Homo sapiens: one gene and its partners. The protein of the gene in region 4 interacts with the protein of the main gene of each other region in a pairwise test. Each region holds a gene or a part of one and is shown on either strand. Other genes may lie near its edges. The genes, in order: SKIL, RWDD1, ZC3H15 and DRG1.

What was found.
Region 1: the proteins of DRG1 (region 4) and SKIL interact in binary tests that used the Homo sapiens proteins (3 or more experiments, as listed by UniProt).
Region 2: the proteins of DRG1 (region 4) and RWDD1 interact in binary tests that used the Homo sapiens proteins (3 or more experiments, as listed by UniProt).
Region 3: the proteins of DRG1 (region 4) and ZC3H15 interact in binary tests that used the Homo sapiens proteins (3 or more experiments, as listed by UniProt).

Annotation. Positions count from the first base shown.
Region 1 is NC_000003.12:170,360,715-170,367,743, reverse strand, and holds part of SKIL (ski-like protein), read right to left. Parts: coding exon 6,315-7,029; intron 1-6,314. UniProt on the Homo sapiens protein: May have regulatory role in cell division or differentiation in response to extracellular signals.
Region 2 is NC_000006.12:116,567,620-116,574,504, forward strand, and holds the start of RWDD1 (RWD domain-containing protein 1), read left to right. Parts: upstream 1-3,884; 5' UTR 3,885-3,963; coding exon 3,964-4,036; intron 4,037-4,802; exon of another isoform or gene 4,803-4,859; intron 4,860-5,238; exon of another isoform or gene 5,239-5,366; intron 5,367-6,438; exon of another isoform or gene 6,439-6,552; intron 6,553-6,885. UniProt on the Homo sapiens protein: Protects DRG2 from proteolytic degradation.
Region 3 is NC_000002.12:186,503,237-186,509,867, forward strand, and holds the end of ZC3H15 (zinc finger CCCH domain-containing protein 15), read left to right. Parts: intron 1-795; coding exon 796-978; intron 979-2,214; coding exon 2,215-2,361; intron 2,362-2,503; coding exon 2,504-2,605; intron 2,606-3,476; coding exon 3,477-3,600; intron 3,601-5,306; coding exon 5,307-5,497; 3' UTR 5,498-6,125; downstream 6,126-6,631. UniProt on the Homo sapiens protein: Protects DRG1 from proteolytic degradation. Stimulates DRG1 GTPase activity likely by increasing the affinity for the potassium ions.
Region 4 is NC_000022.11:31,402,579-31,409,607, reverse strand, and holds part of DRG1 (developmentally-regulated GTP-binding protein 1), read right to left. Parts: intron 6,580-7,029; coding exon 6,404-6,579; intron 1-6,403. UniProt on the Homo sapiens protein: Catalyzes the conversion of GTP to GDP through hydrolysis of the gamma-phosphate bond in GTP. Appears to have an intrinsic GTPase activity that is stimulated by ZC3H15/DFRP1 binding likely by increasing the affinity for the potassium ions.

The DNA of each region.
Region 1 (7,029 bases), on a different chromosome or scaffold from region 4:
TAATCCCAGCACTTTGGGAGACTGAGGCTGGTGGATTGCCTGAGATCAGGAGTTCGAGACCAGCCTGGCCAACATAGTGAAACCCCCATCTCTACTAAAAATACAAAAAATTAGCTGGGTGTGGTGGCAGGCACCTGTAATCCCAGCTACTAGGGACACTGAGGCAGGAGAATTGCTTGAACCTGGGAGGCGGAAGTTGCAGTGAGCCAAGATTGCGCCATTGCACTCCAGCCTGGGCAACAAGGGCGAAACTCCATCTCAATTTAAAAAAAAAAAAAAAGGGTATATATAGTTCTTAACTTAGTAAAGTGGAGACTGTCAGCCACATGCTACAATAGGGAAGAATCGGCCAGGCGCAGTGGCTCACGCCTGTAATCCTAGCACTTTGGGAGGATGACGACGTCAGGAGATCGAGACCATCCTGGCTAACACGGTGAAACCCCGTCTCTACTAAAAAAATAGAAAAAATTAGCCAGGCGTGGTGATGGGTACCTGTAGTCCCAGCTACTCAGGGGGCTGAGGCAGGAGAATGGCGTGAACCTGGGAGGTGGAGTTTGCAGTGAGCTGACATCGCGCCACTGCACTCCAGCCTGGTCAACAGAGCGAGACTCTCGTCTCAAAAAAAACAAACAAACAAACAAAAAAAGTGAAGAATCACCTACAACAAATGACCACTTCCAATATGTTTGAAAATAATCTTAAGTAAACATTACTCTTCAAATTTTATTTACAAATGATTAATTTGCCTGTTGATCTTTTTTTCATACAAACGTAATATTCAACAAAATTAGAATTAGATCAAATTTATTTTAATTTTCTATTTTTGTTTACATATATTTGATCTACTTCTGATTTTGCTGAATATCCACTGAAGATGTGAAAAAGAATCAGGAATGTGATGTTTGCATGTATTTATACAGTTTAAAGTAAAATAATGATTATTCCAATAAAAAACACAAAAAGCTCGTATCAGGTAAGTAACTTGACAACATTCTGTAGAACAACATAGGCAGATCTAAAATCAAGTATGTGTGTGTGTGTGTGTGTCTGTGTGTGTGTGTGTGTGTGTGTTTTGAGACAGAGTTTCACTCTGTCACCCAGGATGAAGGGCAGTGTGAACTCGGCTCACTGAAACCTCCACCTCCTGGGTTCAAGCCTGCCTCAGCCTCCCAAGTAGCTGGGATTACAGGCGTGTGTCACCATCCCCTGCTAACTTTTGTATTTTCAGTAGAGATGGCGTTTCACCATATTGGCCAGGCTGGTCCCGAACCCCTGACCTCAGGTGATCCACCCAACTCAGCCTCCCAAAGTGCTGGGATTACAGGCATGAGCCACCGCGCCTGGCCTAAAATCAAGTATATTTCTTATGGCGACTTGAGTAAGAAAGAGTTATTAGCTATATTTAATTAAGTTGTCTCATTTCAAATTATTTATAATTTACAAGATACTACAACTTATTAACATTAAAATGTATTAATATATTACATATTTTATAATTGTAAAATAATTAAGTTGTTTCATTTCGAACAACTTACTGAGTTTCAGGACTTTTTTTAATCCAAAAGCAATACTTTGATTACATAAACTATATACGCATGTCAAATCATGTCAGTATTCACACCAAACATCAGGTCCTTTACATAACACGTTAATATATTTAGTACAGTCTTAAAAAAAAAAAAAAAAAAGGCCAGGCGCAATGGCTCATGCCTGTAATCCCAGCACTTTGGGAGGCCGAGGCAGGTGGATCATCTGAGGTCAGGAGTTCAAGATCAGCCTGGCCAGCATGGTGAAACCCCGTCTGGACTAAAAATAAAAAAATTAGCTGGGTATGGTGGCAGACGCCTGTAATTGCAGCTACTTGGGAGGCTGAGGCAGGAGAATCGCTTGAATCCAGGAGGCGGAGGTTGCAGTGAGCCAAGATCGCGCCATTGCACTCCAGCCTGGGCGCAAGAGCGAAACTCCATCTCAAAAAAAAAAAAAAAAAAAAAGCCTAGTTTGACTTTTTAAAATGAGCTCCCTCTGGGTCAATTTGGCTTGTTTGGCAACCAACTCAATGACTCACAGAAGAAAATAAAAACTGTTCCTCAGTCAAGGACTATCTCATTCTCAGTTAAATACCTTAGTATTTAAATTTATATGCAGGTTAAAACAGAGTTTGAGAACCATCATAGAGGCTGAATATCCCTTATCAGAAATGCTTGGGACCAAAAGTATTTTGAATTTCTGATTTTTTCAGATTCTGGAATATGTGCACGATATGGCAGTTGAGCATCCCAAATCCAAAAATCAAAATCTGAAATACTCCAATGAGCATTTCCTGTGAGTGCCATGTCAGCATTCAAAAAGTTTTGGCCTTTAGAGCATTTCAGATTTTGGATTTGGGATGCTCAACCTGTACTAAGGTAAATTGATAAGAAAAGTTAATGTTTCTCAAAATTCAGTTTCTGCTACTAACATGTGCTTCAGGGGCAAATAGTGAAAAATTACTAAACTTCGAGTTAGAAGCCCTGTATTCAACTCCTGATTCTGGTTATACAACCAGGAGCATGTGACTCATCTAAGAGGTGGAAATATTGTCATTCACCTTCCTCACAGACCCTAAAAAATAAGTGTACTTCACAATGTTCTGAGTACGTTTTTAAAACGTGAAGTGGTAAGCATAATAAAACAACCACTCAAGTACGTATTAAATATGAACCAAAGAAAAGAATCTTTCTTAAAGTATGGGTGTTTGAAATTTTCTTAAATTCCTTTAAATTTCTCAAATTCACATAAAATTACAAGCAATATCAAAATACACCACAAACACTAATTCAAATACTGCAAAATATAACACAGCAAAAAGATCAGAAAGAAACTCACACCTTCCTAAAATCGAAAATGTATTCAAATCAGTGAATTCTGGGACAAAAAGGGATTACATCCCAGACGAAGGATGGTTTCAGTGTTAACCAAACCTCAGCACATTGTTTCAGTTAAGTAAATTAATCCATCATCTTTTTTTTTTTAAACCTTTATCATGGTTCTCAGATGTTTTTCACATAAACACAGAGCAAGAATATTAGGAAAAGTAGTTTATCCAAAATACACTTATGTCAGACTAATAATTAGACTGGGGCGGGCCAGGCGCCATGGCTCATGCCTGTAATCCCAGCAATTGAGAGGACGAGGAGGTCGGATCACCTCAGGTCAGGAGTTAAGACCAGCCGGCTAGGCTGTAAAATCCCATCTCTACTAAAAATACAAAAAACAAGCTAGGCATGGTGGTGGGCACCTGTAACCCCGGCTACTTGGGAGGCTGAGACAGGAGAATCACTTGAATCTGGGAGGTGGAGATTGCAGTGAACTGAGATCGCGCCATTGTACTCCAGCCTGGGCAATAAGAGCGAAACTCTGTCTCAAAAAAAAAAAAAAAAAAAAAAAAAAAAAGACGGGAGCAACAATATCTGGCAAATGTGGCCTCCAACAGACATGTAAGAGTAGACCACCACTGGGCATGGTGGCTCACGCCTGTAATCCTAGCATTTTGGGAGGCAGAGACAGGCGCATTGCCTGAGCTCAGGAGTTCGAGGCCAGCCTGGGCAACATGGTGAAACCCCCTCTCTACTAAAATACAAAAGAAATTAGCTGGGCATGGCGGTGGGCGCCTGAAGTCCCAGCTACTCGGAAGACTGAGGCAGGAGAATTGCTTGAACCCAGGAGGCAGAGGTTGCAGTGAGCCGAGATCGTGCCACTGCACTCCAGCCTCGGCGACAGAGCAAGACTTGTCTCTACAAAAAAAAAAGTACAGCACCTAATTAGCTTGGGGGCAAGATATCACAAATATCAAAAGGGGCATTCCACATTTTGAAATATAATCTCTGAGCACAAACTTCAGCACGGGACAAGTCCAACTGTAAGCAAGTTCTACACTGAGCACTGGCTTGAAGTCAATCCTGATTTAAAATTAGTTAATAGGCCGAGAGCAGTGGCTCACACCTGTAATCCCAGCACTTTGAGAAGCCAAGGCGGGTGGATCACCCGAGGTCAGGAGTTTGAGACCAGCCTAGCTAACATGGCGAAACCAGTCTCTGCTAAAAATAACAAAAATTAAAGGGTGTGGTGGCTGATGCCTGTAATCCCAGTGACTCAGGAGGCTGAGGCAGGAGAATCACTTGAACCCAGGAGGCGGAGGCTGCAATCTGCCAAGATCGCGCCACTGAGCTCTAGCCTGGGCAACAGGAGCGAAACTCTGTCTCAAAAAAAAAAAAATCAGTTAATAACTACACCTGAAGAATATAAACTTATCTAGCAGCCACTGGCAAGAAATTTCAAAGTGCTGGTCTTCTGGAAGCAGCAAGCAGCAAACTACCATAAATGAGTCTAAAATTATTATCTTCATTAGGCTTAACCAATGTCTTAAACTACACTGTTAACTAAATTTCCCTCAAAACCTTAAAGGCACCAGAATAAAGCTCAGGATCCCAAGTCTTAAGGACTAGTCCAAGCTCTAACTTTGCTGTGAATAAACCTTCAGTCAGTCATTTAATATGCTTTATTCATTTCTTCTGTAAAATAGAAATGGGCAAGGATATTTCAAGGAATCAAAACTAATAGTGGAAAAATTCAAAGTTCCTAAATGAAACACAGCCAACCTCTTGTTAAGAATTAAATAAAATTATATATGTAAAACTGCTCAAGAATAATGTTTGCCACATTTTAAACACTTAGTGTTAGGAACTGTTATTACACATTAATTTTAGTCAAATAGGAAAAAATATAAAACAACCCGATCAAGAAACTAAATATTTAATAATCCCAATCTTGTCCATTACCTCGGCATTCAAAACCTTGGAATGAAAATAATAGTTTAGCCTACTAGATAATGCAGCAGGAAAAATAAAATTATGATACCTTGGCTGATAGGTGGTTGTGTTTTTTTTTTTTGAAATGGAGTCTTACTCTGACGCCCAGGATGGACTGTGGTGGCGTGATCTCGGCTTACTGCAACCTCCGCTTCCCAGGTTCAAGCGATTCTCCTGGCTCAGCCTCCCAAGTAGCTGGGACTACAAACACACACCACCATGCCTGGCTAATTTTTGTATTTTTAGTAGAGATGGGGTTTTACCATGTTGGCCAGGCTGGTCTCAAACTCCTGACCTGAAGTGATCTGCCCACCTGGGCCTCCCAAAGTGCTGGGATTGTGAGCCATTCATTGCTCCCACCTGTTGATAGGTTGTTTGTTTGTTTTGTTTTGTTTTTTGATGGAGTTTCCCTCGACGCCTACGCTGGAGCGCAATGGCACAATCTCGGCTCACTACAACCTCCGCCTCCGGGGTTCAAGCGATTCTCCTGCCTCAGCTCCTGAGTAGCTGGGATTACAAGTGTGCGACACCACATCCGTCTAATTTTTGTATTTTTAGTAGAGATGGGATTTCACCATGTTGGCCAGGCTGGTCTCAAACTCCTGACCTCAGGTGATCCACCTACTTCAGCCCCCCAAAGTGTTGGGATTACAGGTGTGAGCCACTGAGCCCGGCAGGTTTTTATATTAATATTTTATTAGTTTAAAATAACTTTTCCTTACTCTAGCTGTCATTTTTTTTGTTATTCCTTTCAAATCACAAATTCTTCAGATACATGTCTTTTCCATTTGTTTCAAATATTGAGCAAGCCTGAATATCCAAACATAGAAACATCAGAAATCATAGGTGTATCTCTGAAAAATGCTGTTTTGAGCCCACGGGAATTGTGGCCATTGTACCATTTGCAAATGGAGATAACACCAAAGCGCAAATTATCGAGTCCTAGAAAAACAACAGATGTAGTGGTCAAGAAGCAAGATGTGTGCCAAAGAGGATAAGAAAAAGAAGCCCTGGCTGGACACAGGGGCTCAAGGATGTAATCCCAGCCCTTTGGGAGGCCAAGGTGGGCGGATCACGCGGTCAGGAGTTCAAGACCAGCCTGGCCAACATGCTGAAACCTGGCCTCTACTAAAAGCACAAAAAAAAAAAAAAAAGAAGCCCTAACTCCTCCACTCCCTGGCTACATAATTTTGGGAAAGTCATTTTATCTCTCTGAGCTTCATTCACTTTATCTGTAAAACGGAATAATAGTCTTACTTCTCTCACAGGATGTTTGGAAAGTCAAATGAGGAAACATACTGCAAAGCACTTTATGGCCTAAAAACTGCAATACAAATATATCAATCGGTATTTTGTTGTTGTTGCATGAGCAATGTTCAACATACAGGTTAAGTTACACACTAAACATAGAATTTTCATTTCAAAGTAAACCATTACCATTATTAAAAATTGATATAAAAAACTTGCCTTGGATTGATTTCTCTTTCCACTTCTCATGCTAAACTTCTCCTTCATTTCTTCTAAAATTATCTTCAGTTTCTTTTCTTCAGGTGTTCCTAAGTATTTTTGGTTCACATGAAGATAGCAATGCCATTTAGCTGATTCAAAGCCCCAGTGGCAAGTTCTTTTGTCAGGTGATCTGTGAGAATGCATCACAAACGTCTGGGGTGCAAACATTCCACAACACTCCAGACATTGAATACACGGAGCATCAGGCTGAACATAAAACTGGGGTGCAAATAAACCCTGACATTTGCCTAGGCATTCATGCTCCACTTCAAAGGCACTGCCAGTTTCCTTTAACTGGGCCAATGAGCTTTTAGCAGGAAGTACGCTACCATTTTGAGGAAAAGTTCGTGGCCGCAATAAAGCATTACATAATCTTTGTGCATCAGTTAATGTAATCAGCCCACAGGATGGGGCATTGAATGGAAGTATGCCCAGTACCTTTAAGATATGAAGCTGGTCTGAAGTACACCTTGAACAATATATGTACAGTTCATCACACACTGTATTTATTTGCTGGAGTGTAAATTCTCGGAGAACAGAATTTAAGACTTGGGGCAAACAGAGTCTCTTTTCTCCTCCAACTTGAAAACAAGAAATAGATTCCCCTTCCAACACAGTCTGAGTGAGTTCTGTGGAGCTATCTGAAGGGATGAGCAATGGGCCAGGAAGAACC
Region 2 (6,885 bases), on a different chromosome or scaffold from region 4:
CAAAATTTCTACCCTCATGGAACTTACATTCTACTACAGGGAGAAAGAGTATAAACATAATAAATAAATAGTGTAATTTTAAAGAAGCATGGGAAAAATGAGTTAAAGGGGATAGGTAGTGCTAGGAGTGGTTGTAATTTTAAGTAGGGTGGTCGAGTTGGGGTAACCCCATTTAGAAAGTGACCTTTGAGGAAAGACTTGAAGGAAGGGAGGAGGTGACACATATGGGTATGGGAGGAACGGCATTCCAGAGGGAACAGCAAGTGCAAAGACCTTACGAGGAAATCCTGCCTTGCATGCTTGAGGAACAGCAAAGAGGCTAGTATGGCTGGAGTAGTGGAGTAGAATAAGAAGAGAGACCTGAGTGAGCACACTCAGCCCCCTCGCCATGTGATGGCCTGTGCTACCTCAGTACTCTGCAGAGTCCCCACATGCAAGAAGGTCTCACCAAATGTCCCCCATGACCTTGGAATTCCAATACTCCAGAACTGTAGGAAATAAAATTACCCAGTTTCAGGTATTCTGTTATAAGCTTAGTCCAGAAAACAGACTAAGGCAGAGAAAGAAGAGCTGTGAGGGTGAGGATCAAGAAGCCAGATTCTCTAGGACCTATACTATAAACACATGGTTTTAATCTGAGATGAGGATGGGGCAGTTATGAGCAAAGGAGTGATATGGACTGGTTTACATTGTAACAGAACCACTCTGGCTTCTGTGTTGACTCACAGTAGACTGCAGGCCAGGGAAGTGAGTTAGGCTGGAAAGTATTACTGAGATTCACTACCCTTGAAGATATTTCTGTTCAGAGTACACAAAATTAAAATTTTATATGGCTCTTTGTGCTTGTGACTGGTAAAGTCTTTGAGATACCTGAGTAAATGAAACATTAGCCACATGAACTGTTCGATAATTAAAATTAAGCATGAAATAGGGAATTCTCAACACTGAGCTTCTGAGAGTAGTGTGATTGCCTAGAAAACTCACAGGCACAGAAAAGTAAAAATAAACATCAAAATAATTTTTAAAGGCTGATAGCATTAGTAAACAGCAACTGCTAATATGCACTACCTGCAGAAGAAACTAAGAAGAATACAAATAAGATGAATCTCTTAGGGACAATTTCATTAGCAATAAAGATGAACAGAGAATAGCAATGCTTTACAAGATGGTATATGAATTTAATTACCAGTAAATAATATTTATATGGAGTTTACACAACATGCTTACACATTATTTCATGTCATCTGAATTATAAGCTTATGTATCTTGCAAATGACTAAGCCTGGGCTTCTCACTTCTGGTTCCAGATCCTATGATGGCTGTAATAGTCAGTTCTCACCCTGCTATGAAGGAATAACTGAGACTGGATAATTTATAAAGGAAAGAGTTTTAATTGACTCATAGTTCTGCATGAATGAGAAGGCCTCAGGAAACGTACAATCATGGCAGAAGAGGAAGCAAACACATCCTTTTTTTCACATGGCTGCAGGAAGAAGAATGAGTGCCCAGCGAAGAAGGAAGACCCTTATAAAACCATCAGATCTCATAAGAACTAACTATCACAAGGACAGGATGGGAAAAATCGGCCCTGTGATTCAATTATCTCCACCTGGTCCCTCCCAGGACACGTGGGGATTATGGGAACTACAATTCAAGATGACATTTGGGTGGGGACACAGCCAAACCATATCAGTGACTCACACCATTTGCCTACCTGCAGAGCTTAAAACACTTGGTCTGTAACATCTCTACCTACCGATTAAAAATGAAACACTAAAAGAAAGTCAATTTGCCTCATGAGAATTTTCCACAATTTCAGTTAAGGGACTTGCTGTGCTGTGTTAAGCATGTGTTATGGTCAAAATGAAATTAGAGATCCACTAAAAAATGCTTAATAATGCTTATGTAGGTGTGACAAAGATTTGCGGAAGTGTTTTCTTGATTACAAGAGCCATCTCCAGTATCAAAGTAACACTCTTGAGCATTCTGAAGCATGTAGGGTTTATTTACAGTGATACATAAGGTTTGAAAAGGATGCTTTACCAAAAATTTTGTTAATGAAATAGGAATGAAAATAAAGAGGTACATTTACTGGATTGCAACTGGCAACCAAAAGTAACCTTTTTCTAACGTAAACCTTGTATGTTTGTTGCTTTGCTGCATCTCATTTCTTTTGGTAGGTTGTTTTTATTATTCTGTTAGGAGAAAAAAACTTAATTTTGCTTGATTTTCTTTCATCTAGGAGTCATTTAAAGATGTAATGCCACCTTCCTTGCCAAATTTGATTCTGTCTTCCTCACTTATTTTGGTCAACAGAACTTCGTCTTTCCAGTTCTTCCAGCCAAAAATCATCCTTGACTCCCCACTTAGGACTTAATGCACTAGCTGTTTCCTCTGGCAGCTCTTTCCTCATAATAAATCAGTATAATTCCTCTGAACTGAGGCGATCCAAAAAAAATGAGCAACTTATACTTGCAAAGTTACTTTATGTATTTTATTTGATTGTCATCATAGTTAGGAGACTCCACTTTTTCATTAAAGTTTAAAAGAACGCCTGAAATCAACCCTTAATACCGTAAACACGGAATCAGTATCAAAGTGTTCCTCTGCTATAGGTAAGCAGCACTCCTCAATAAAAGATCAAGGTGCCTTCTGGTGCTTCAGGGGCTTCATCATTAGGAATCTTTCATTTAAAAAGTGTTCCTCCCACTATACCAGTGAAACCAGCTTTAATACAGAGAAATCAAAACAAAGAAAAATACAGAAAAGTGGGCAACAGCTTTTGAGTATTTTCTTAAAATTTTCCATTTTTCGACTTAGCGCAATAATATAATAAAGGAACATGGGATCCTTTATTATTGTTACCATAGTTTTTAATATCATTTTCATAAAGCTAACCATGTTTATTTAGCCATTTTCTTAGCTTTTGCCATCATGGTTCTTTGAAAATTTTCTTTGTAATTGCTGCAATGATTTTGGAGATCACAGATGCATGCTACTTGCTCAAGTTTATTCTTGGAAGTCGTATTACCAAATTAAAGGTTCTCAACATTTCTCGGGGTACTGCAATTTTTACATTGCATATGATAATTGTTATTACTGAGATCTACATTCCTTTCATCAATTCACAAATACACAATCACAGACATCTTGAGATCTATCATACGTCCAGCTGCGTTCATTTCACAAAATCAGAAGTTAAGCCTAAAGATCTGAACCGAGAAGCCGGACCTCCGGTCTATTTCTCCCTCCTGGATCCACCCCGACTTATTAAGCAGTTAGACCGACCCTTCCATACTCATTCAAGGCAGTGCAGAGCTTTTGCTCCCCTGCCCAGTGGAATCTACACTGGTCCCAGCCTCTCGTCCAACTCCCGTAGGACGCCAAGCAATACGGAGTTCGAGAAGCTCAGAAATCTCCTGAGCCCCACCAGTCCACACTAGGTTGCAAGCCCGCAGCACCTACGCCACGGCGTCAAACCGGAAACCAGAAAAGGTGAAGGCATCGGACGCCCCTCGCCCCAGCCCGGCCACCAGCGACACTATCCTTCACTGACGCGCGATGCCGGCCTTTCAGCCCAGACTCATCGAGCGAGGATGCAGCGCTGAGAGGCTTCTAAGGCTCAGGCCCTGCAAAGCCCAGGAGCCGGCTGTAGGTGTCCTTGGCGAATGCCAGACCGCGCGCACCGTCCCAGCAAGTCCCGAGCGAGTGTGGGACAGGCAGCAAATCAGTGCCCCCTGGCCAGGCAGAACGAGTCGAACGTGGAAGTAGGGAGCAGGCGGAGGCCGGCGCGGAGCTGCAGTTAAGCAAGCCGGGTCTGGCTTTGGGCCCTGGGCCTTCCAGCCGGGGACTCTGCGCCTGCGCCCGCCTGGCCGCCGCCCGCTCTCCCGGCGCGGCAGCTGTCTGGGCTGCTGCGCGCCGCCTAGGTGTCTGGGCGATCTATGGGCAAGAGCAAGGGCCACGATGACAGATTACGGCGAGGAGCAGCGCAACGAGCTGGAGGCCCTGGAGTCCATCTACCCTGACTCCTTCACAGGTGACTCCCGCGGCCGCAAGCCTGTAGCCGCCCCGAGGTGGAGTAGGACGGGCAGGAGCTGCCGCAGCTCTGGGCCTCATAGGTTGGGGTGGAGAAGGGGACCTTGAGGCCGCGCGGCCACCTTGCCCTCCACTCCTCAAGTTCTTCAGTCACTTACCAGCAACCCAGTGACTTTTTCTCCTTCTCTGCTTGTTCCCGGAAATCTAAAAGTCCGGGTGATGTTGGAGGGTGTCAGGCCTGAAAATTGAGTCGGGATTACTTTGGTTTCTGTGTAACCTACAGCAACCTGAGATTTATAATACATTAAGAGAAAAAATACTCCAAGTGCGATTCGTTTTTCCACAGCCGCAAGAATGTTAGTTTTCACATTTTTAGCTTTATTAAGGTAGAAACTGTTTTTCATACGATGCTGTTTTAGTTTATAGGATTCAGAGTGCTGTTTTCAGTTACTCAAATCGGTTTTGAGAGTAGCATAGTCCCTGAAGTCTGTCGGGTTTCTTTTCTTATGAAAAAAAAAAAAATCTGGCATTCAGCAGAATGCCTAATGGATAATGTGGCCCAAATTTCCGTTCTGCTATAAATTCATAGGTTGTTAGATTGGAAGGGAGATTAAACATCATCTATCCTGGGGCTCCTGCTCCAAGCCAAGGTCATGGGGGTTCAGGAAAGCTAAGTGGCTTGCTCTGTACTGTCCGCCAGCGAGTTAGCGGCAGGGCTGGTACTGAGTTATACGTCCAGAACGCTTGCCTGTTCTTTCACTTTCCAGACATATGGGACTTGGGATTCAGCTCCAGCTGAGATTGAGAGAGCAGAAGATTACTTGGTAGGTTGGGCTAATGTAAAATATTATAATGAGAAGTTCATTAGGTATAATTTAGAGGACGAGATTTCTCTATTAAGCCATGCTTCGGATGATTATAAAAATGCTACATAACTATATCAATATGGCTCCTCTGAGATTTGAGAAGCGGTCAAATAAAGCCAATATGAGTGAGTAGAACCTAGGTGTGTGCATTTACATTCCCCATCCTTTCCTTTGAGTGTTGCCTATCGTTGATAGTCAGAATTTATAGTGTAAGGTATATTACTTTAACTTATAAATTCCAACCCCTCTCCCTTTCATTGTTTAGCTTAGTTTTCTTGGCTTCACCTTTTGACCACTGCTTGCAATGGTAGCAAATTTTGTTCTGCTTTGCCAACAGGCAGATGTCTCTCAGCTATCCCTGTATAGCTCCAGTCCTGTTCATGTTCTCTCTCACCAGCAGTACATCTGTGCTGTGAGGATGTTAAGGGGATGAGTGAAGAGGGGTTTGAGAGTGTCATTAACTGGGTGAGTGTGTATGGAGTCTGGCTCCCTTCTCTATCCTTGCTTATATGTGTATGTCTAAAATAGAATATAGGGTCAGTTGTTGGATATATTCTTAATCATGTTTGGTCATTTCCAGTACTTTGGAAACATACTAGGTATGAACACTGTAGGCAGAGTCAAGACAGCAGGATGTGCTATTCTTTTCATTTCTTTGGACATAAGCTATCCCTCGCTAAATCCTATGCATATAAGCATTTATAAAACTGATATCTTTTTTTGTTTTTAACCCTGAAATAATCTTGTGGGTATTTCAAATTGTACTAGGCCCTGACAGCTCTGGTATAGTTCGCTATGTGAAATTCTTATCAGATGCCCAAGTGCTTGAGGATTCTGAGCCAGGGTAATAAAAGACAATTTATGAATCTTTTGATGCATTCAGGTATTCTGCATTATCAGATGAGCCATCTGTCTCTAACTCCTGTCAACATTTCTACAAGCTTTGCAATAAATAAATTAAAATGAGGTGTCTTTATTTATAGTTCTTAGGGAACTTTGCCTTCCTAGTGATCATGTTCTTTATGAAAACTCTTGGGGAAAAGGCAGAGGACTTTGAAATAAAATGTTTCCATGTTTGATCTTTTAAAATCTTGGAGATTTGCAAGATTTTCTGTTTTATAGCCTTCTTTTGTATTTATGATTCCATACTTTTGTATTCTCATGCCAGGTTTAAGAAAGAGATCTTGCTTGTGTCGGTTGGCCAAGGAACACTAAATGGGAGTTTTGTAACTTCATTTTGAATCACATTTAATTATTGAATTTGGTTAATGCTCAATACTATTAATGAAGGAAATAGATATACTTTTTTTTTTTAATGGATGACTGAGTGCTTGACAAAGAAGCATTTGTTAAGTACACGTGACCCCATGTGGATGCTGAAGAGACACAGTCCAGCCTATAGACCTAGGCACATAGATTTAGCCTAACCTCAGAATTAATTGCTTTGACTATTTGCAAAGAAGTTTTGGTCCAGTGTTGCATTTGTTGTGATTATAACAAATCATAATACAATTTCTTCTTTTTGCCTATTCTGTAGCTTGATTGCACATTGATCCAACCCTCCTAACAACTAGTCTTCCAAAATATAAATGGACTCTCCTGATACCACATTCTCCTTCAGTAGTGCTTCACTTGACAAGGTCCTGCTAAGGTAGTAGAATTTGGTTATTTCAATTTATGTATTGAAATCTCTGGCTGTGGGGAGTTTTATTGAAACGCATTTGTTGGCATCAGGTTAACCAAAAGCCAAGTTTCCTTAATTCTGTTTGCCTTACAAAGAGGAGTACATAATCCTGTATTTCTTTGTCAGTACCTCTAAGCAGCAGCCATTCACATTTGACAGTTATAATTGTATCTTGAGATAGGTAAGAAGTCGTCCTGTAAAAGCAGTTTGTTCTAAGTCATACTTTTTGAAAGGTCAGACACTCCCTAACAACCAGAGGTACTTATTTTAATATGGGCTCTCTCGTATTTTGTGGAAACT
Region 3 (6,631 bases), on a different chromosome or scaffold from region 4:
TTGAGGCTTAAATACAATTGTATCTTCTATCCATGTTGTGAAGGGTCACTCTCTTTGTGTTCCTTTTGTACCTTGCTCCTGTATACTGCTTGTGATTCATTTTTATTTAGGAAAGATCAAACCAAAGAAAATCATTTATTCTATTTATTTTATTTTTGAGGCGGAGTTTTGCTCTTGTTGCCCAAGCTGGAGTGCAGTGGCGCAATCTTAGCTCACTGCAACCTCTGCTTTCCGGGTTCAAGAGATTCTCCTGCGTCAGCCTCCCAAGTAGCTGGGGTTACAGGCATGTGCCACCACGGCCAGCTAATTTTTTGTATTTTTAGTAGAAGTGGAGGTTCACCATGTTAGCCAGGCTGGTCTTGAACTCCTGACCTCAGCAGGTGATCCGCCCGCCTCGGCCTCCCAAAGTGCTGGGATTATAGGTGTAAGCCACAACGCCTGGCCTGATTTTATTTTTTATAGCTAATTGTATATTCTGATTCGGGGGCGTACATTTACAAAGGGTAACTGAAACAAGTAAGTCATTTTCGTATGATTTAGAATTTAGAACAAATGAAAACTGTATAGATTCCCCTTTAAGGGAATTTGCCATTGTTCTACATATTTTAAGATAAACTTCTGTTGCATTTCTGCACAGAATAGAGGCTAGACAGAGCACCCTTATGTGCAGAAATGAATAGAATGTACTTGTGTAATATAACGTACTTGTGTGTATACTTGTTCCATATACTCAGGCATTTACCTTGGAAATGGCCTACACTGAGCCACCGCTTGTGAATAATATTGTCTCTATAGGTGTGCAAGCATTTCCTGGAAGCTATTGAAAACAACAAGTATGGCTGGTTTTGGGTATGCCCTGGAGGGGGTGATATTTGCATGTATCGTCATGCACTTCCTCCTGGATTTGTGTTGAAAAAAGATAAAAAGAAAGAAGAGAAAGAAGATGAAATTTCATTAGAAGATCTAATTGAGAGAGAGGTAACTGGTATCCTTTTCCTACCATAAAAACTGAAAGCAGTATTTATTGTGAAATTCTAATACTTACCACTTGGGGCAATAGCCTTTTATGAAAGGAAAAAAAAAATATTGTGATCTATTCCCAAAGTTGCCCTACTTTAATTATTCTTGTATGTGTAAAATGTTAACCTAGCCATAAACATTAGCCAATCATGACATTAATTTTAGGATTGTGAAACAGTCTTTTAAGTACTAGCTAATGGCTTATCAAATTATTTCTGTAAGATTGAGTTACTAAAAATGCTTAGTTCTCAGATTGGTTGAATTTTTATAGTTTTAGATTTTTCGCCCTGATATCTTTTTTCACTAGTATATTAGTTATTAGCATATGTACGGAAGAAGACAACACTCTAGTTTTTAAATTATATGTTTTATCAGCTCTGGACTCAAAACACTCACTCTGCTTATAGAAGGGAATGAGTCTGAAGAGGATATTCAGCTACTTGTCTTTGGCTCCGTACAAAACACAGTTTTATTCTATGAAAATTTTGAGATTATTAGAAACATTAGATTTAGGGTTGCATATTAAAAACTATATCCATTTTGCCTTATTATTTAGTGTCTCACTCAGGATATAACACACTATAATAGAAAATGTAGACTTCAGAATCAGGTATATTTGAGATGGTTTGTATACTGGTTCTGACACTTGTTAGCTATTCATCTTTGGTAAATTCCCCATTACCCTTTGTTCACCTATTTGTGGGGATCAGTGCATAGTGTGTGTAAAGCATTTAATACCTGGCAAGTGTTCAGCAAATTTTTTGTTCTATATATTTATTATTTGATTATTGGCCCTGAGGAGTAGGTGTTTGTTTGTTTGTTTGTTTGTTTAGTTTTATTTCTCATCTTCTCAGGAACACAAATGAAACTTGGATATTGTTATGGTGCTTTTTATAATATATTTATTATTTTCAGCAATTGATTCATGTTAAAACAATTTCTTATGACAAGTTACTCATCTTCAATGGTGAGAAGAAATCTAGCTCAGAATAATATATTTTTAGTGTTTGTATCTCTGGATACTCATTTTGCTCATTGCCACGTAAAGTAAAAAAATACATAAATTAGCTTATTCCAATGTAATATCTTCAGGATAGTCATGGGCAAGGAATTAATCACATTAAGAGATAACTGCAACTAAGCACTATTTGAGGTGACTTCTGTGGAAAAAAAATTAATTCTTTACCATTGCAGCGTTCTGCCCTAGGTCCAAATGTTACCAAAATCACTCTAGAATCTTTTCTTGCCTGGAAGAAAAGGAAAAGACAAGAAAAGATTGATAAACTTGAACAAGATATGGAAAGAAGGAAAGCTGACTTCAAAGCAGGGAAAGCACTAGTGGTATGTCTCAGGCTCACCCAAACTGATTCTTTATTCTTCCATTTTCAATTTCTGTGTCATGCAAGATTTTGTTTCTATTTCATCAGTGACAAGGAATGTTTAGATTTTTGTCCTGAGTTGATATATTTGTGTGTCTCAATAGATCAGTGGTCGTGAAGTGTTTGAATTTCGTCCTGAACTGGTCAATGATGATGATGAGGAAGCAGATGATACCCGCTACACCCAGGGAACAGGTGGTGATGAGGTAAGAGGAAGCTTTGTGCCTCATCTCCTTATGTTAATTGAAAGAAACAATAGAAAATACCACAACATGGTTAAGAGCCACCAACATCAGAGCCACAGTGCCTGGGTTCAAATCCTTACTCCAACCATGGGAAATTAATCTAGGCCTCCACCCTCATCTAATATGGACATAATGATTATCTCTACATCATAGTTTGTGAGAATTAATCGAGTTCATGAATTAGTAGTTCTTTATACAGCTTAGGACAGTGCCTAGTATGTGGTTGAGTGCTATATGTATTACCTGTAAAAAGTATGTTTTGTCCTCCCTCTAAAAGAGAGAGTTATTTTTTGGTTAATATTTTATGCTTAAAAGTTATGGGACAAGTGCACTAATTTAAAACTGCAGTGTAGGGAGCATGAGACAATAGCACAGTCATTTGGTTGTTGACAGATTTAGTAATAACAGATAACTTACTGTTGATTTTTTGTGTACTTACAAAATTCTGGCCTCTGGGTTGAAAGAAAAAAATTGTACTCTATATATAAAAATGTGATGGCAGAGGAAGAAGTTTCATATACCACCTTGCTATTCTTTTTAAACGAAGTTTAGAAAAAATAATTTTGAAAATAGATCTTTTGTTTTTGTTTTTTATAGAGACAAGGTCTGGCTTTGTTGCTCAGGCTGGTCTCAAACTCCTAAGCCCAGGTGATCCTCCACCTCGACCTCCCAAAGTGTTGGGATTACAGGTGTGAGCCTCCACACCTGGCCAGTAATTGGTCTTTTGTTTTCACTTGGATCAGTGATAATTTTGGCTCATTAAGATAAATGTCAGGAGTAAAAGAAAACTGTTCTTATTTGTAACAACTTTCTTTTCTATATGTTGTTAAAGGTTGATGATTCAGTGAGTGTAAATGACATAGATTTAAGCCTGTACATCCCAAGAGATGTAGATGAAACAGGTATTACTGTAGCCAGTCTTGAAAGATTCAGCACATATACTTCAGATAAAGATGGTAAGTATGCTAACTTTTGCCTAATTTTAAGAACTAGGAAGTTATCTAAAGGGGGTTATACCAGGCTTGGCAAACTTAGATGTGTGCAGGTACCAGATTGGTAACATAAATGTGTGGTTTGACCATAAATAAAAGCAGTAATAAATAGTGAAAGGCTGTAGACATGAGCAGCTGGGTGTATATTAAAATCATTAATGGAAACTAGAAGGAGACAAAAATGAGCTTGGAGTTAAAGTCAATGAGTTCACTTCGGGACCTCATGAGTTTGAGATTTTTTGATTATCAAAAGTGCACTGTCTAGGATATTGTGTAGACATGAACACCCTACAGAACATCAGTGTTATGGGGTAAGTAAAAGAAGAAATGCTTAGGAAAGACATTGAGAAGGTCAGAGAAAAATCAAGAAACAAGTTTCCAAAGAAGCAAGTAGGATGAAAAAGAATATAAATAAGTTACTGGTTGTAATTGGTTATAGGAATAGGGTGCCAGTTTCATTGAGACTGCAATGATAACGGTGAGAAGAAAAATGAATACAGTCCTCTCTCTCTTAATGTTTAGAGGGAAGACATGGTCATGGGAAGGGCTTTTTAGGATATGGAAAACCTAAATGTATCTGTAGCTCAGAGGAAGAGGATCTGGTAAGGAGGAGAAGTTGATGATAAAAGATTAGTTATAGAAGCAATACATGAAAGTATAAATAATGAGTTAGGTATGAGAATGGAGGGAAGGCTGTCTAGGATTGTTGGTATAATTTATGTCTAATTGTGCCTTGAGTTAGGTACTTGAAGAAAGGGGTAAAAGTTTGGCATGCTTGCTCTGGGAGAAAACAGCAGAAGAAATGCCCATTAAGGCAAAAGCTGAGACAGAAAAGGCTGAACATTATTTTTACAATAAAAGCACACAAGCTGTAACTTGAAAAACCAGCTTGCCCTCCCAAGATCTGAGAGTGTTAGCAAACCACTATCTTGCCAGTATTCAGATTGACTTGCTCTTTGTAGAAGTAGGGGCTTTGGTGACAATAGGCACAACTGCAAATAATTCAGAGATTATAAAATTCCCAAGACTTTGTCATCAGAGATGTTTGAAATAACTAAAATCTAAATTAGGCTGTTAAAAAATGTCTGTGTAATTGTCAATGGCATTGAACAAGAAAAGGCAGCATTTTTTTTCTCTCAGTTATTTATAACCTATAAGAAAAAGTAGCTGTATAGCACTATGTTTTTTTTTAACAATTTGATTACATGATGAAGATTTTCTGCTGTCACAATCACAGCATTACAACAGCATGATTTAAATACTATTTGCAAAACCAAAAGCCAAGTAGCTGCTTATATTACAAACATTTTTTTGGTTTCCATAACCATTTAGTCAAATAAAATATTATATGGAAATTGACTATTTAAAATCTAATTGCTAGGTCATGTAGGGAACACAGAGGTGTAGAAGATTGATCCTGCCCTCAAATGTATAAACCATTAAGTAGTCAAATGGCTACAGTGAAAAACAGTATTTTATAGTAGGTATAGATAATTGGCACAGATAAGCTCAGAAAAGAATGATCAGTTCTTGCTGGAGTAATTCTGGGGAAATGGCTTTCATGGAGAAAAGGAAAAGAGGAAGTGTAGTATCAGTCTATGTTGTCTATTGCTAATGTGGAATGGTGTTTTCTGCTTCTACGCCTTACTGATTCCAGTTTTTATATTTAGAAAACAAATTAAGTGAAGCTTCTGGAGGTAGGGCTGAAAATGGTGAAAGAAGTGACTTGGAAGAGGACAACGAGAGGGAGGGAACGGAAAATGGAGCCATTGATGCTGTTCCTGTTGATGAAAATCTTTTCACTGGAGAGGATTTGGATGAACTAGAAGAAGAATTAAATACACTTGATTTAGAAGAATGACACCAAACACATCGCTGAAAAAATTAAGTCAGCTCAGCACGAGTTGAAATTGACTACATTAATTTCTTTCCACCTAGAATCAACAGGATGTTTATTTCCTATGCTGATTCTGGAGGAGTTAACCTCCTGCAAAAAAGGCATCTTGTCCCTACATCTTCTCTTCTGACTTTGGCTACATCTCATAGTAAGTTCAGAGTAGTTCATGATAAATTGAAAATATAATGGTCATTGCAGAAAATGATTGATGTTGTAACTGTCCACCCAAGTAAGAAGTGTATCTGCCTTTCCATCTTTTGGTTTTCATTTGGGCATGTGCTATTACCAGAAACAACAAACTTATATTTAAAATACCCTTCATTTGACACAGTTTTTAATGAGTGATTTAATTTCCTCTGTATTTGTATGTTTAGAAGACTGCCTAAAACATGAGCACTGTACTTCATAAAGGAAACTGCGTATGCAGATTCAGTATTGTGTATCTTTGGACAATTAGATGGACATTTAAAATGGAACTTCTTTTATCTGACAGGATCAGCTACAATGCCCTGTGTTAAATTGTTTAAAAGTTTCCCTTTTCTTTTTTGCCAATAAAGTTGTAAATAAAGACCATCATACATTAAAATCCAAATATGGGCCTTTTTTTAAGTTTTTCTATGAAAAATTTAACATTTCTAGCTTGAGAATTTTAAATACCTGTTATAATATCACATAGGCATGTTTTCTTAATATTTACTACAGAAGCATCTAGAGTACTTGACAGTACTACAATGAGTTTAATAACACAAATACTAAGCTTCCAAAAAGAGACTTTAGGAGATGTTATATAAAAGAGTAACTTCTGAATTGATACAACATCAACCAAATTAAATATCACCTGCAGTTGAATCAAGTAATGCTTAAGAATTGTTTGTTGAGATTCATGGTGTTAAAATAGTACATACTACTGTAAGTATAAACAAATTCACCAGAAAACTTTGGGCTGAGGGTCTTTGGCACTAAGAGCCCCTGAAAAATTAGGGTGATAATACATTTAAAATGGACACAATTTGCTAATGACATATTTAGTACTAGCTACACCTTTTTTATTGTTATGTTTTGTATTTTCAAATAATATGTTGCTTTTGTTATTTGCGA
Region 4 (7,029 bases):
GATACATATTGCAATTTCTGCAAATCCCCAACTCACAAAAATTTTTGTAGCCGTTCTTAAGCAGGCACAACCGAATCACCTGGAAAAACTTTTAAAATGTAGAGAGCTGAAACCCATCCCTGCAGATTCTGATTTGAAGGGCCAACAGATAGGGATCTGTACTTCAAAAGGCTTTACAAGTGACTCTGATGTATGTCCCCAGTAAAAAATGACTGCTCAGGCTGGGCCCAGTAACTCACACCTATAATTCCACAGCACTTTCCCAGAGGCCGAAGCAGGCAGATTGCTTGAGCTCAGGAGTTCGAGACCATCCTAGCCAACATGGTGAAACCCCGTCTGTACAAAAAATACAAAAATTAGCCGGGTATGGTGGCACACACCTGTAATCCCAGCTACTCTGGAGGCTGAGGCACAAGAATGGCTTGAACCCGACAGTCGAAGGTTGCAGTGAGCCGAGATTATGCCAGCCTGGGCGACAGAGTAAGACTCCATCTCAAAAAATAATAAAAATAAATAAATAAATTTTAAAAGATTTTAAAAAGATAAAAATGACTGCTCAACTGCCCAGGAAATGCAGTAAGGTAAAACTTCACAGAACTCAGTGTACCTAATGATGTGATTGAAAAACCAACCCCACAGCACATGTGATTCAAATTTACATCTCAGCAAAATTATAAACTATTAATTTGACTGCCCTTAAGAATCAGTCAAAACAGTTAAAACAAATATAAAATCTAAAAATACCAAGGGTCTACTGTATGGCAAATACTGAATTATACACATAAATGAACTGAAAACAGATGCAGCTTATTAAAACATCACTTAAAATATCTTTTTTTTTTTTTTTTTTTTTTTGAGAATGAGTCTCGCTCTATCGCCCAGGCTGAAGTGCAGTGGTGCAATCTTGGTTCATTGCAATGTCCGCCTCCCAGGTTCAAGCGATTCTCGCACCTCAGCCTCCTGAGCAGCTGGGATTACAGGTGCTCGCCACCATGCCCCACCAATTTTTTTTATGTATTTTTAGTAGAGACAAGTTTTCACCATGTTGGCCAGGCTGGTCTCGAACTCCTGACCTCAAGTGATCTGCTCGCGTCAGTCTCCCAAAGTGCTGGGATTATAGGCATGAGACACAGTGTCTGGCCTTGCTTTTTCATAGGGATTCTCAGCTGGGCATGGTGGCTCAAGCCTGTAATCCCAGTACTTTGGGAGGCCAAGGTGAGCGGATCATCTGAGGTCAGGAGATCAAGACCAGCTTGGCCAACATGGTGAAACCCTGTCTCTACTAAAAATACACAAAAAAATTAGTGGGGCGTAGTGGCGGGCACCTGTAATCCCAGCTCCCTCAGGAGGCTGAGGCAGGAGAATTGCTTGAACCCAGGAGGCAGAGGTTGCAGTGAGCTGAGATCACACCACTGCACTCCAGCCTGGGCAATGAAGCAAGACTCTATCTCAAAAAAAAAAAAAAAAAAAAAAGAAGGAAAAAAAGGGGAGTCTCGCTCCATCACCCAGGCTGGAGTGCGGTGGTGTGATCTCGGCTCACTGCAACCTCTGCCTCTCAGGTTCAAGTAATTCTCCTGCCTCAGCCTCCCGAGTAGCTGGGATTACAGGTGCCCGCCACCATGCCCCACTAATTTTTTTTGTGTATTTTTAGTAGAGACAGGGTTTCACCACATTGGCCAAGCTGGTCTCGATCTCCTGACCTCAGGTGATCCGCTCACCTCGGCCTCCCAAAGTGCTGGGATTATAGGCTTGAACCACCACGCCTGACCAAAACATAATTTAAATCAGATATGCTTTGCTCTAAGAATATAAGAAATTACAGAAATATACTTTGCATTAAATAAACTGCAATGAAAACTGATTTAGCAGGTGCGAGACAGTTCAACTTCTCCATTCAAGAACGTACTCAAAAAAAAAAAAAAGAAAAATGAAAATAAAAAATAAAAATAAAACAAACAAAAGAACATACTCAGGCCCAGGACAGTGGCTCATGCCTATAACCCCAGCACCTCAGGAGGCTGAGGCAGGTAGACTGCTTGTGTGCAGGAGTTCAAGACCAGCCTGGACAACATATTGAGACTCTGTCTCTACAAAAAAATAAAAAATTAGTCAGGCATGGTAGTGCATGCCTATAGTCCCAGCTACTTGGAAGGCTACGGTGGGAGGATCACTTGAACCCAGGAGGTCGAGGCTGCAGTGAGCCATGATCGTACCCGTGCCACTGCATTCAGCCTGGGTGACAGAGCGAGGGAGAATTACCATGAGGCAAAAGTACAATAATAACTGTTACAGACAAGACCCACAGATGGATGCGAAAATGAGCAGGCAAAAGTTTGAGGAAAAACAGGATTTGCATCTTCTTGAAGTATCTCCCCTAAAATATATATTAACTGTCCAAAAAAAGGTAACTTTAGAGAAACCCTACAGACACAACCATAACCAATTGATGGAGGACAATATCACCAATAAGACATACTGACAATATGAATCCCATGGTAGGAGGCACTGAGAAAGACAGTATCATTTCTGTGGTATTCTTGCCAAAAATACCTAATAAGTCTAACCAAGAGAAAACATCACACAAACCCAAATTGAGGAACATTATACAAAATAACTGATCATTACTCTTTGAGAGTGACAAGGTCACAAAAGATAAGACAGAGACTACTGCAGATGGCAAACAAATAGACAGAAATAGCTAAATGCATCATGGGATGATCCTAGATAAAAATTTTAGAAGAGAAAAAGGACACTGGTGGAAAAAACAGGTAAAAATTAAAATAAGATCTATAGTTTAGTGAATACTGTTGCAGAAATGTTCATCTATCTCTGATAATTTTTCTATGGTTATGTAAGATGTTAACAACAGGAGAAGCAGGCAAGTGATACGAGAACTCTTTGTACTATGTTTGCAACTTTTTTTTTTTTTTTCCGGGACAGGGTCTCATTCTGTCGCCCAGGCTGGAGTGCAGTAACACGATCTCGGCTCACTGCAACATCTGCCTCCCAGGTTCAAGCAATTCTCCTGCCTCAACCTCCCTAGGAGCTGGTATTAAAGATGCCTGGCTAATTTTTTATTTTTAGTAGAGACAGGGTTTCAACATGTTGGCCAAGCTCAAAAAGTTTATACAAAATGAGAGAAAAAAAGACCACGAGAGAGAATTAAAAGCTCACCAACATGAATGCAAAATTATGCAGAATGAAAGAAGCCTATGGAAAAGAAAGTGCATTTATATTTATATGTGGTTTTTGTTTATGTAAAGTTCTTAACATGTAAACTAATCTACAGTAACAAAAAGCAGGTAAGTGGCCAAGCGCAGTGGCTCACACCTGTAATCCCAACATTTTGGGAGGTCGAGGCAGGCAGATCATGAGGTCAGGAGTTCAAGACCAGCCTGGCCAACATAGTGAAACTCCGTCTCTACTAAAAATACAAAAATTAGTCGGGCATGGTGGCACATACCTATAGTCCCAGCTACTCAGGAGGCTGAGGCAGGAGAATCACTTGAAGCCGGGAGGAGGTTGGAGTGAGCCGAGATTGTGCCACTGCACTCCATCTTGGGCAACACAATGAGACTTCGTCTCAAAAAAAAAAAAAAAAGAAAAAAGAAAAAAGAAACGGCCAGGCATGGTGGCTCACGCCTATAATCCCAGCACTTTGGGAGGCCGAGGCGGGTGGATCACCTGAAGTCAGGAGTTCGAGACTAGCCTGATCAATATGGTGAAACCCCGTCTCTACTAAAAATACAAAATTAGCTGGGCATAGTGGTGGGCACCTGTAATCCCAGCTACTTGGGAGGCTGAGACAGGAGAATCACTTGAACCCGGGAGGCGGAGATTGTAGTGAGCCAAGATCACGCCACTGCACTCCAGCCTGGGCAACAGAGTAAGACTCCGTCTCAAATAAAAAAATAAATAAACCCCCCCACACACACACACATGCCCAACAGTATGAGCCTAACTGATGTTAGCAAGAACTCAAAAGGATAATCTACATGAATAATCTAAAACTGTTCAAAACTGGAATATGACTATAACTTCAAAAAGATCATCTGAAAGAGAGAATGAATAAACTGAGGGAAAAAGGGCAAGGGCTTTCTAACTGTGGCAGCTGAACACAGGCAGAAAATTTATTAAGGCCCGGCCAGGCACGGTGGCTCAAGCCTATAATCCCACCACTTTAAGAGGCCAAGGCATGTGGATCACAAGGTCAGGAGTTCAAGACCAGCCTGGCCAATATGGTGAAACCCAGTCTCTACTGAAAATACAAAAATTAGCCAGGTGTGGTGGCATGCGCATGTAGTCCCAGCTACTTGAGAGGCTGCGGTAGAAGAATCACTTAAATCCTGGAGGCAGAGGTTGCAGTGAGCCGAATCACGCCACTGCACTCCAGCCTGGGTGACACAGCAAGACTCTGTCTCAAAAAAAAAAAAAAGAAAATTTATTAAGGCCTCTACAAAAGTAAAGGCAACCTAAATTTAGCTTTTCTTCAGAGGGAAATATTTTAAAAGTTAGGCTGAAGAATTTAAATGTAGCAACTAATAATTCAACATTCAATAACAACATTCAATAAAATAGTCAATGCCTAATAAGTAACATTCAATAAAAAGTCAATGCTTTATATATCCGAATTTCATGTTACAACCAACCAAAACCTAAAAAAAAAATATTTATTTAAATCATGGGGCCTGGTGCAGTGGCTCACGCCTGTAATCTAACATCTTGGGAGGCCAAGGTGGGCAGATCACTTGAGGTCAGGAGTTCAAAACCAGCCTGGCAAACATGGTGAAACTCCGTCTCTACTAAAAATACAAAAAAATTAGCTGGGTGTGGTGGCATGTGGCTGAAATCCCAGCTACTCAGGAGACTGAGGCAGGAGAATTGCTTGAACCCTGGAGGCGGAGGTTGCAGTGAGCCGAGATCATGCCACTGCACTCTAGCCTGGGAGACAGAGCAAGATGCTGTCTCAAAACAAAACAAAACAAAAAAACATGGAATTACACAATTTTAAGGAATTAAATGTTAAACTACTTCAAACTCCAATGCCTTTAGAAGTTAAAGCAGGCGAGACCAGGCGCGGTGGCTCACGCCTGTAATCCCAGCACTTTGGGAGGCTGAGGCAGGAGGATCATGAGGTCAGGAGTTCGAGACCAGCCTGACCAACATGGTGAAACCCCGTCTCTACAAAAAAATACAAAAATTAGCCAGCCATGGGGGTGCGTGCCTGTAGTCCCAGCTTACTCGGGAGGCTGAAGCGGGAGAATCACTGGATCCCAGGAGGCGGAGATTGCAGTGAGCTGAGATTGCACCACTGCATTCTAGCCTGGGAGACAGACTCTGTCTCAAAAAAAAAAAAAAAGAAGATTAAGGATACCCACTAGTAAGCTTACATAACTTAGTTTCTGGAGAAAGCCAAAAGAGGATGAAAAACAGAGGCAGAGGACAAAGGGAGGAAAGAGAGCACCATGCAAAAAAAAAGTTGGGGGTCTCTAAGGTCAGAAGACACTGAAATGAGTGAAGGTTTTCTGGGAAAGAGGAGAGGAGTTAAGCAACTCTCTATTTTGAAATACTCAAAAGTCCTGAGAGAGGTGTCAATAGCATCCTACCAAAAAAAAAAAAAAAAAAAAAAAGTTATTCTCTTGAGCTGCCAAAGCTGTGACTCTCAACAAGACTCTGAAACCAGCTAGAATCAAGCCATGGTCCAGATATGTCCACACTGCTTCATTCTTGTTATATACATTTGGACACGGGATCCCAGAAAGGGACATGTGTCTCTGCATGGGCACCTGACCAGCTGGAAAAAGGGTCATTAAAAATACAACCAGGGGGCCGGGCGCGGTGGCTCACACCTGTAATCCCGCATTTTGGGAGGCCAACGCGGGCGGATCACAAGGTCAGGAGTTCGAGACCAGCCTGACCAGCATGGTGAAACCCCATTTCTACTAAAAATACAAAAAATTAGCCCGGCATGGTGGTGCTCACCTGTAGTCCCAGCCCCCACCCTCAGGTGAAAAAGTAGTTCAAGCGATTCTCCAGCCTCAGCCTCCCGAGTTGCTGGGATTACAGGCATGTGCCACTACACCCGGCTAATTTTGTATTTTTAGTAGAGATGGGGTTTCTCCATGTTGGCCAGGCTGGTCTCGAACTCCCGACCTCAGGTGATCTGCCCGCCTTGGCTTCCCAAAGTGCTGGGATTACAGGCGTGAGCCACTGCGCCCGGCCCTTTCTCTGCATTTTCACATGCGCTATCCCATTTTATTATCGTACTGCTCTATTTCCCCTACCAGGTAGTAAGTGCCTGGTAGATCAAAGATCAGGCCTGGCATACAGTGAGCTCCCAATAAACTTCTTCCTAAATGAAGAATAGATTTCTTTCCTTCCTTAGTCTGCAGGCTTGACTCACCTGGATCTTGGCACCTTTGTATCTGATGACACCAGGCACAGTGGTCAGAGTAGTGAATTCATAGGCTGCCACCTCAGAATATACCCCTGCCAGGTTACTAAGCAGTGTTGACTTCCCCACAGATGGAAAACCAACAAATCCAATTCGAGCATCACCTGTCTTGGCCACATCAAAACCTAAAACATCAATGAATACCAAAAAGAGGAGAGTTATCCCCCAGAGTGTTAAGACTCATATAACTTCTTTCACATTTTTACTGCCTATCCCTCTAGGCACTATTTCTCAAACTTTTTATGGTTTACCTTTAAAGGAGAACTAAAGCACACAAAACTTGAGGGCACAGCAATTCACAAAATTCAATGCAGTGTTTGATATAAAAAAACTGTATTCAAAAAAGTCAGGCACAGTGGCACACATCTATAGTCCCTGCTATTCCAGAGGCTGAGGCAGGAGGATCTCTTGAGTCCAAGAATTCAGGTCAAGCCTGAGCAACATGGCAAAACCCTGTCTCTACAAAAAATACAAAAATTAGCCAGGCATGGTGGCATATGCCTGTAGGTCTCAGCTACTTCAGAGGCTGAGGTGGGAGGATCGCTTGAGCCCAGGAGGTTGAGGCTGCAGTGAGC